2 separate regions of the Homo sapiens genome follow, and region 2 is linked to region 1. Evidence: fine-mapped expression QTL. A gene starts in region 1. The other region holds a variant in brackets. All regions are shown on one strand. Distances are between the middles of the regions.

The links.
Region 2: its variant is fine-mapped to the expression of PKDCC in whole blood (TOPMed, PIP above 0.99).

What each region holds. Positions count from the first base shown.
Region 1 is chr2:42,045,282-42,050,644 of GRCh38, reverse strand. It overlaps PKDCC (protein kinase domain containing, cytoplasmic), which reads right to left and starts at 2,624. Exons shown (of 7, transcript NM_138370.3): 1 at 1,807-2,624. The coding sequence starts at 2,445. RefSeq lists enhancers at 521-1,022, 1,736-1,995, 3,496-3,615, 3,239-3,743, 3,744-4,247 and silencers at 2,036-2,105, 2,236-2,335, 2,346-2,525, 2,676-2,925, 3,036-3,325.
Region 2 is chr2:41,876,803-41,882,165 of GRCh38, reverse strand. LINC01913 (long intergenic non-protein coding RNA 1913) reads right to left here and starts at 4,611. Exons shown (of 3, transcript NR_033996.1): 1 at 4,388-4,611. The variant T/C (reference allele first, on the strand shown) is at 2,823.

The sequences.
Region 1 (5,363 bases):
GTTTGGTGAGGGAAGGGTGAAAACTATTCTGTTGTAATTTTTTCTTTGGTGCCTTCAGAATTGGGCTGGGGGCCTGACATTTCAGAGGAGGACCGTCACGTGATATATATGTGGGGCGTTAGCTGAATGCTTGTCAGGAAGTTTGAGCTGGCGGGAAGAGTGAGGGACAAGTTTCTTAAAAGATAGGAAAGCACATCAAACATCAAACCCGTCTGAAGGGAGAGGGGTCTTGAGTCAAGTAACTAAGACTTTATGTCCTGCTAAGTCACTCAAGACCTCTCCACTCCCTCAGGATCTGGCTGACACCCTAGAGTTTCCAAAAAGTTCCCAAAAGTCCCTGGGAAGGAAAGAGTACAAGATCCTCCCAGTTAGAATGGCCACGTAACCAGGGGCTCACTCCCTGAAGCTGCAGACACGGTGTGAGCTGTGCAGCCAGGCTTCACTACACGCAAGTGTTGGTTCTGCCCGAGCTCCTGAGACCAGTTTGGGGCCCAGGGCCCGGTCACAAGTGTCTGACCAGGGTTGGGGAATACGATGGGGGAGGGGGAGACTGGGAGCCAACAGGAGTATAAACAACTTTTGGGCCAGTCTCTCCTGCTCTACGACGCCCACCCATCTCCCTCCAGGGCTGGGGTGCCATCTCACTCCTAAGGAAAGGAGAGAGGGACTCCTGGGTTTCCAGTCATTTCTGCTGGGTGCAGAAAGGTTAGTTTGAGTGGGCTGGTAGGTGGAAGGTGTGTGCAAGATTTCATCCGTTGGGGAGGCTGCACACACCCATGTTCACCGGGCCAACAGCGGTCAGGGATTCCCCTCTGTTTGCTCAGACATGTGCAAAGGGAATAGTCTGTCTAATCTTAGGATGGGGGGAGACCTGAGAGAGAGGACGTGGAGTGTTAGGGCGGTGCTGGGACTGTGAGAGGCCCACTCAAAGTCTAGCTTGGAGGGGACAAGGTGGGGGTTTCAGCTCTCGCCTGTGTCTCCAGTGAACAGGCGAGGCAGAGTCCCGTTGAGTAGGAACCTGAGCATTTGGCCTTCTCAACCTTCCAGCCTCTTGGCTATCTATATACACTCAGACAGTGTGACATTTAGATCCTCAGGCCGCCAGTCTGTCCACTGAGCTGAGACCTTCAGGCTTCTCCAGGGGCTCAAGGACCCACTTTAAGGCCTGGGGAACCCTTAGTTCACTTCTGGGAAGGACTGTGTTCCCTTTTTCTAGCCTGCTCCCCAGCCCCCTTCCAGTGTCTTCTGGGTGGCGCTGGAGGTGGGTGGGTGGGGAGACTCTATAGGAATCAAGCCTGACACATGGTCTCTTTCCAGCTCTTCCCAGCCCCACTGCTGTCCCGTCTCATTTTCAAAACCAGACAAATCACTGGAAGTTGGGAGAAGTTCCATCAAGAAGGGGGACTTTATCACACAGTTGGAATTCTGACTCAAGTGTCTTGGCTTAGGGTCATTTTGGCTTGGGGTAATATCCCTGGTGTTCAACCTCCTAACTCCAGCCCGGAGTAGAGTCCTAAATCCTAATGGACTGCCCCACCCCCTGAGTTTTGGGAGCCTCTGTCCTGGCCTGTCTTTAAGAGATGTGTGGAAGCCGAGAAACCCAGGAGTTCTCCGGTAAAGGGACGCCCACCCAGGAGTGAGAAGCAGGGTGGTGCAGTGGGAAGGGCCATGGTCCGGTTTCTGCGTCTAGCTTAGCCTGGGTGCAGTCACTGGCACTCCAGATCAAGGGGTTCTCTTCCAGCCAGGTTGACAAGGTCTTGGGCACTCCCAGCCAACACCGTTACCCCCGCGTCCCCACCCTCGTACCTGCAGCACGTTGGGGTGCCGCAGCCGCTCCAGCAGCACCATCTCCTTAAGCAGCTTGTGGGCCGCCAGCCGATAGCAGCCCCTCCGTACCCCGAACTCGCGCACGCAGCTGCCCAGATCGTGGCCGCTAAAGTCCACCGCCTTGAGCGCCACCGCGGCACCGCCGGGCAGGCGGACCCGGTACACGGCCTTGGTGTAGCCTGAGCCCATGTACTGCGCGCCGGACACGTTGCGAAGCGCGGCGCAGCCCAGGCGCGGGCCCGGGCCGGGGGAGCCTGGGCCGGGAGCCGGGGGCCAGCCTGGGGCGCCGTCGGACAGGGGCCGGGCCCAAGGGGGCCGGGGGCGCGGCAGGCCGGGCCCGCCCGGAGCCAGGTCCATCAGGCGCCGCCGCTCCGGCCGGCCCGCCCCGGGCCCGGGGCCCCCGCGGGAATAGCGCTGCACCTCCTCGTAGCGCGCCCGGATCTGCCGGGCCAGCTCCCCGCGGCCCCCGCGACGGCCCGGACCCGGGGCCGGCGAAGGCTCAGGGGACTGGCCTGGCCTCGGAGGCTCCGAGCCCGGAGCGAAGAGCACGTTGAGGACGGAGCCCAGCAGGAAGGAGGCGCAGAAACCCGCGGCCACTGCCGCCCGCCGGCGCCGCATCGCTCCCCTCCCCCCGGCCGGCCGGCCCCGCGCGGCTCCCCGGCCCCGGCCCCGGGCGGCTCAGGCTCCGAGGCGGCTCCGCTCTGCGCCCCGCCGGCCCCCTGCCCAGCCCGCGCGCATGGCCCCGGCGGCCCCGACCCCGGCCCCTCGCGGGCGACACATCGGCCTGACACTTGCCTCCCTGCCGCCCTGCCCCCGCCGCTTATAAGGCCCAGAGCCGCCCCCCGCCCCCGCCCCCGCCCCCTCCCCCGCCCCCTCCCCCGCCCCTCCGCCTCCACCTCCCAGCTCCCGGCCCGAGCCCGTCCTCGGCGCCGCCCCCTCCGGCCGCCCGGCCCGGCCTTCCCCGCTGACTGACAGCGGGACCTCCTCCCGCGGCCGTCCGGGCCTGGGAAGCGGCGCGGAGGCGGCTCCGGTCCTGCCCAGCCCGCGGTCCCGCCCAGCCCGCGGTCCCCCGAGCTCCGTCTGGGAGCGGGGGAGGGGGCGGCGGCGGCCAGGAGGCGCGCGGGGGCTCCGCGCCCAACGCGAGGGCGGATAACGGGGCCGGGGCGGCCGGATAACGGGATTGGGAGGTGGATAACGGAGCCGGCCGGGCGGAGTGGGGGAAAGATAAAGGGGCGAGGCCGGCGGGTAGCGGGCTCCGGAGGGGACGAGCAGCTAAGTCCGGGGTGCGGAGATCCGAGTGATCTCAGCGCTCCCTCCTGGGACTGGGGGCCTCGGGGCGGTTTGGGCGCAGGGAAGGCGCGTGGACCCCGTCTCTCGCGGGTGGGGCCGGGGGTGGCGGCTCCTCGCTCAGCCCCGGATTCCGGATTGGGGCGATGGTGAGGGGGAAGCGGGCACAGCCGGGCCAGCACCTGCGAGCGCGCGTGGGACAGGAGCTCTAGGCATAGAGGAATGCTCGTGAGCTCGCCGAGGATGCCCTGTTCAACTCCTTTTACCAAAGTGTTTCTGATTTTCCTTGCCTCTAAAGCCCCAAATGCAGCTGGGGGTCGCTCCCTACCCCTCAAGATGCCTGGGGTCTGACGGGGTCAGCCGCGTATAAGAAACCATGTGCATGCTAGTAGCTTGGGCAAAGAGTGCGTTTGTGCCCACGGACGGCTGTCTGTGGAGTGTGTGCCTCGGCGTGTCTGAAGGGGCCATTGTGTCCGATGAAGGGAATGTGTACCTTGTGTGTAAGTTGGTGCTGACGCCACCAGAACTTCGGTCCCTCCTCCTCCCTCCCTGATTGCATCATTAGTGCTAATTGAGGGGCTTTCACACGCCAGTGCACTAGCTGTTTGGAGTGAGCTCCCCCCTCCTGGGAGAGATAAGCCGCTGCCCCTCCCCCTCGCAGCTCTCCTCTTCCCCGCCACTCTGAAACTGCCCACCTAGATCCTCTCACCTTCCTGGGCAGCTTCCTGCCTCCCTCTGGGCCAGGTTAATCTCTGTCCTCCTCACAGTGTCAGGGATTGGCTGGGGAGGGGTCAGGGAGGAGAAGGGTCCACAGCCTTTTTTCTGGGGGTGGGGGTGGGTGGGGGGGTATCCAGGGAGGGGAGATTTTCCCTGAAGAGGTCTGGCGTTCCTACAGAATGCAGTGTCTGTGATGAGAAAGGGACAGGAATTTCTGCCCTGTTCCTTTGGACATGGAAGGACCGAGGAGAGAGCTGAGTCCCTGATCTCCAGCCTATGATCCCACTGAGGTGGGCCTTCCAGCCCGGACTCCTTGTTCTCTATGGCTTGGGGAGTTGGGGCCCAGTCCGACTTGGCAAGCATGGAAAGGCAGGGTGAAGGAAGCCATGATTCCTCCGAGAACACTGGGTCTGGTGGAGTCAGGTCTGTACCGATAGAGCTGTTCTGCCCCACTCTGGGCCGTGGCTGCAGTCTGCAGGGTGTAGGGGGAAGGCTCTGAGCAGATGCCCTCTCCGCAGCCTTGCACCAGATGTCTTTGGTCTAATTAACTGTGCTGGGAAAACCAACCTGGGTTTGTAAACAGAGCTACTGGCTAAAGTCAACAGGGAACAGCAGCAAACAGCAAACCATTCCCCTCACACTCAGCCTTGGTCCAATTCAGACCCCTGGGGAAAACGGGGAGCTGGGTGGATTAGGAGGCCCCCCCCGGCCCACAGCTGAATCAGGAAAAGCCTGTCTGCCTGTGTCACCCCAATATGGCTGCTAGTTCCTTATCAGTTCCATGTCTTCTTTTCTGGGGAGGAATGAGGATTTTGGGAGGAACAGTTGCCATCCCAAGATAGGCTCTGTCCTCCTTCCAGCAATTTCCCCATAGACATCTACCCAGCCAAACGTCTCAATCCGTGAGGGAGCTGTTGTGGGGGAATATTCCCTGAAGAACTTTCTTTGGGGCTTGCTCTGCCCTTGTGTTTTGGAGAAACTTCTGAGGGTAAAACTTGGCGTTGTGAGTCTACAGCTCAGAGTAGGTGAATATAACATGAACATTGTTAAGTTTGTTACACATCATGTAGGTATTATAATAACATGTTCTGAAATTAGATAATTATTCCTGTGATATCTTTGCCAAGCTTCAGTGTTTCTGTTATGGTTTGAAAGTTCAAGGCACACAGGGGCCTGAGAAACAGGCACAAATGTGCGTGCAACACACACAGGTCCACGGAGCAGTTCAGAGCAGTAGCTCACACACAGGAACAAAGGCATCTCAGTGGCCTCCCTCGCATACTCACTGTCTCCCTCACCAGCTCTCAGACACAGACATATACAATCTGAGATGGAAATGGGTTTTTGGCTTCTGAAAGAAAGGGATTGAACTTTTTGAGCAGATTAGAGTTTCTGAATTGGCAGTTCTTGAGTTCTTAACTATATTTTGCTTGTTTGCTTTTTTTTTTTTTTTTCCTTTCTGCCACCCAGGGAGAGGAATCATTTCAAAGAATTGAAATACATGAAATGCTGCTGCAGGCCCCTGATCTGCA
Region 2 (5,363 bases), 170 kb after region 1:
AGAAACTGAACCCAGTCCCCAACTTCCGTGGGCAACAGGAAAACGCCACAGAAAGACCAGGTCGTAGAGCTACCATTCCAGGCATGAGTTTCCCTGGGACAAACTTGCCATGGAAAAGGCCCAAGAGAGGAAACGTGTGGAGCCCAGAGTAAAGGAAAGAGAGAAGGATGATGGTTAATCCTGTTTAATGGTTAATTCTGGGTATGCTGGTTAATCCTGGGGGCCTCAGAAGATGACCCATCCTAGAAAGTTGCCTCCCCACAAGGTCTGTCGGTACTGATCTCATATGCGGGTAAAGAAGGACCCAGCGGAGGAAGAATGGGCTTAGCTGAGCACATTCACACGTATGAGAGGAAACTTTGCCACAGTGTAGGAAGAACCAAGTGGGTGTGGGAAGCCAAGTTGGTCATTGTCGCAGCAATCCGGATGCATAAGAAGTAAAGAGGAGAGAAAAAATTAGTCATCTAAAATTGATTGAGGTCAAAATTATGGCATCCCAATTGGAGGCAAACCATGATAGACTTAAAAAGATTGGAAAGTGTTTGTTGTGTGGTGTAAAGCAGGGGTTAGTTTGCAAAGTATAGCCTGTGGGCCAGATATGGCCCACTGGCCTGTTTCTACAAATGCAGTTTATTGGAACATCCATCTACTCATTTATGTATTACGTATGGCTGCTTTTGTGTTGCAATGGCAGAGTTGAGGAGTTGCAACAGAGACCATCTGGCATACAAAGCCTGAAATATTTACTATCTGGCCCTTTACAGAAAAGAGGCAAGGACACATTGTTCCGAGTCCTGGATCCACAACTTTGGATGCATACTAGCTTTTGTAACCCACCTTTCAACGTCTGAATTTCTCATCTGTAAAATGGGGGACTATGTTACCTGTGCCCACTAACCACTTCACTCACTGAGGAGTGAAGACACTGAATGAAATGAGTGTGAAAATGTACATTAAGATCTAAAGAGTTATGCAAATGCAAAGTGTTATTAGGTCTGTTTTGTAATATTTGGCAAAAGAGAGAAGACGGAGAAAGTTGATTTTTTTCTCCAATGAGGCTAAAGAGAAAATAAACAATAAAGGTTGCCAAAGGGCATGTGCACCCTTTTATTTGTGTCAGTTAATGTGTAGTTTCCAGTCAATGGAAGCTCGGTTATTAAAATTAAAGAGGAAGAAATAAAATTCACAGCCACCTTGAAAGGACTGAACAGATTCATTAACAGTGAGGTACAGTCAGAGTGGGTAGAGGTACAGGTCTGAGGGTGTGCTGACCCACCTGGGAGCAACAGAGTGGGACTGAGGGAAGGGAAGAATGAGAAGACAAATCAGGAACTACTGCCTGGGATGTGTTTATATGGGCAATTAAACATTGTTTATCTGGAATTCAACTTAGCTGGGCATCCTGTATTTTTATTTGCTAAATGTTGCAACCTTCCCCCACCCTGAGTGGTTTTGGTAGGGCAACCAATCACAGGACTCTGCTCCCTGATCACGGAGCTTGTTGATGTTCAGTCCTGCAACTCTGAATCTTAAGCAGAGAGAAATAAGGAGAGAAGGCAGTTGGAGCTGATCATCTGATGGCAATGTTCCAGAAAGATCTTCAGAGCTGCCCAGTTCTATCTTTCCCAGGACTGTAGTTCAGGCTTGCTTTTAATCTCCAAACTATGCCATTCGTTTCCAATCTATCCCTTTCTGTTCCTTAAACTAGTCAGAGTTGGTTTCTGTTGCTTGCTGTCAAAGAACCCTAACCTAATATCTCAAGACACCCAAAACAGTATCCAATAAACCATGGGGATGGGTAAAGGGGTGGACAGAGAGGGGAGGAGATTAACTAGGGAAGGCTGTTTTTGAGTGTAGATCTGGACATAGGCAGAAGAGGGGTTGGGGGAGTGGTGAGAGTATTCTCAAAATCTGGTGAGTTATTTATGTCTGCTATAACAAGAAGAAATAGGGAACTACTAAAGGCTCTTGAGTAGGGGAAGGACTTGATAAAAATGACATTCAATTTAAAAAAATATTTCCAAAGCTGGCCTTTAAGTGTCTTGGAGGGGAAGTTGGTGGCAGGGAAGCTGGCTGGGGGGCTGGCTCCATGGTCCAAATGATAGTCCAGGGGTCTAGTGTGTAAGAGTGAGGCACTGAGAATGAAGAGGAAGAGAAAAATGGTGAGAATCAGCTCAGAGGAGACTGTGGGATTTTAATGACTTTCTGGTCATGGGGAATATCCAAGAGCAGGGAGGGAAGAGCTCCAATTGGGTCATGAGCCACAGTAACTCAGCTGTGGGGGCTCCATGACCATGGGCTTCCCAGGACCTGTGGCTGCAGGGTGGGCCCATGGTGGGGGTGGTCTGAAAGGAGCAGCTCTTGGAGGCCCTTGGGCCCATGATCCTTGTTGGCTGTGTCTCCACTCTCGGGGAGGGCTGTGGTGAGTACAGGCTGCAGCAGAAAGTGACAGGGATGATTAAAGGGATGGAAAATCAGGCCCATGAAGAGAGGTTAAAGGACTGCAGCTATTTAGCCTGGGGAAGAGAGGTAGTCATGTAACAGCTCCCTTCAAGTCCATGCAGGGTGACTGGTAGACGTGTGCTAGGCAGCTGCCCGGTGCAGCTGCCCGGCACAGCTGCATATAGGGGGAGAGAGCACCCCTGGAGCGAGCACCTCTGCAGCGAGGGAAAGGCACGCTCCCGAGGGAGGCAGAGGCATAATTACAAAGGCTCTTTTGTGGTTTCTGAAGGCCCCTCTCCCCTCCCCTTTGTTTTTTGCATCTGTCATTATGCTGTGCAAACCACAGCCAGGCCTCTTGACAGCACCAATATCTGCCTTCC[T/C]GAACACTCGGAAGGTAACGTGGCTATAAAATTGACAAGTTAGATAAATACTAGTACAAAGGGTAGACTGTGTGTAGCTTTGTGCAGCCTTCTGACTGGTCTCCCACCCCGACCTGGATAAATCCTCTGTCTGCATCCCTCTGGTCACCCCCAGCCTCGTCCATTCCATCTGGGCTCCTTCTGACGGACTCCCCAGGAGCTCACATTTGCTCGGCCTCTTTGTCTAATTTGTCACTTTGACAACTTGAAAGGTCTTTTATTTCTTCCCAGGTCAAATATGTTTCATTTCACTTAAAAAAATTTTTTTTAAAGCTTCCTTTTTTTTTTTTGGCCAGGCCACACTCTTGCTGTCTTGGCTGGGCTGCCACAGTTTTCCCGGAGGAGGCCCCAAAGCCCTTGGCCCACACTCCTCAGATCGCTGCTAGGGTAACTGAGGGCCTCCTCCCGTGGTGACTGTGTTGCCCGGATCCTCAGCAGAGGCCGTGTGGGCAACATGGTCATGGAAGGAAGGTAGCTTATGAACTCCGCATTCAGACACTTCAGAATTGGAGCTGGGCGGGGTGGGTTGGGGGATGGGAGGAGGAGGGATGGGGAAGGAACATTAGTCAGGATCCACCACCAAAGTGTTGGAATCTGGCTGTCCAAAAGCCCAGAGCTAAAATTTATTTGGTTTTGGTCCTGTTGTTAATGAACAGAGGGTGTCAGCGAACCTCACTCAGTGTTAGCCCAGTCTCCTGAGTAGGTGAGGAGAACCTGGAAGCCATAACCCCACCAAGAAGTTCTGTCAGGGAGCAGGGAATTTAGACCTCATCAGATGCCTGTGGAGTGACAGAGATCCCATTCACCACCGACAGCCTCCAGCTCATACCCTAGCAGCGATCGAGGAGGTGTGGGTAAGGGGTCTTTGGGGCCGCCTCCGGGAGAGACTGTGACTCGCTGGACCCATTATGTGCTGTGGCCAAAGCCCTTGACATGGATGGGGAAGGGGTACGGGAGAGGAGCAGGCACAGAGTCTGCTCATCCAGGGATTCCCAGACGAGCTGAGCCTCTCCCTAAACAGGAGTAAATGCCCCAAATCCCCTTCTTGCCAGGGATATGGGGATGCCCTAGGGGCAGGCCTAGCTTGTACTTCCCCCTGTGAGTCCACAGCGTGCAGCACGGGGCTGAGCACCCAGTGAGCAGATGGCTCTGAGGCTGGCAGTTCAAGCAGTGGGGCCTCAGAAACAGGCAGAACTGCCCGCCGTTCTCCAGCTGCGACTGCCCTCCTCTGCATCTGCTAAGTGGGCATGACTGGCACCCACCTCTAGAGCTGCTGTGAACATCGAGTAGCACCGTGCATGACCTGGGTTTGGCATGCTTGGCATGGAGTGAGACCCCATAATGTTAGCTACTGTTGTATTAATAATAATTTATTTTCAATATGACTTATTTAATGGAATGGATGAAGCAAAGGACGAGATTCAGCGGGAAGGGCTGGGCTTCGAGACCTGATCCTTTCTCATTTTAATGCTGCTCCCTCACTGTGGTCAGCCTGAGTGGGATCGGCTGCCCGGCCTTCATTTTACCTTTGTTGCCATCTCTCTTTGCGGTGGTTCTTTCTCTTCCTCCTCCTCCGCCTCATAAGCAAAGGGTAAGGCACAGTTCTGAATCTTTGGTTCTGTAAAGAGGCGTGCCCATCTCTGTGCTTGATTCCACTGGAAAAATAAGAACAATTCCTATTATTTTCGGTTCCGAGACCTTGAGTGTGTCAGGCTTCAGGTTCACTTCCTACATCTCTCCACGTTGCCCGGATCTGCAAGTAATTTAACCTTGTTTTTATAGAGCGCAAAGACGTTCCGCTTGTTTACACTGGAGACAAATTTTCCTCAATTGACGCAATCCTATTGATTAAATAATGACCTTCTTCCTCATTTAAAGGTAATTTCGGTTGGTATCATGACGTGGAGGAAGAAAATGAATGCCTTTTCTGTCTTGCTGTCTGAAGGGCAGGCAGTGAGGGCCGACTCCCAGAGCCCTGGGCAGGGCCCTCTCATTTTTCTCACCTGTTCTGGAACTTCATCAGGCGTCGGAGTGGGGCTAGTGCTGGGACCCCTTGAGGAGGTGGGCTAAATAGGACCAGTCTTGATTAGGGAAATTAAAAAGCCAGCATTTGCTATGTAATAAGATGTCAAGGCTGGGGCAGAGTAGATGCTACTTTGTTTTAAAACTTGATTTGCTTTCAAGACTTGTACGTAAATTACTTTTCAAGCTCATATCACACGATATAGTCCGGGCATGTCATTTGAGCCAAGGATTTAAAATCAAAGGGAAAGGCAATGTGCAAGTTCAGGAAGAACTTCAGGGAACAGCTCACACAGGAGAGACACAAAGATGGGAGCCTGGGGTGGTGAGAGAGTTGTTGGGTACTCTTGGGTAAGTCCTTTAACTTCTTCTGGGTCTAGATTCCTCATTGGTAAAACAGGGGTGACTGGATCAGATGACTTCTAAGGTACTTTCTTGGTTCTATGTTCTGTGATACGATGGAATCTGGAGACCCGGTTA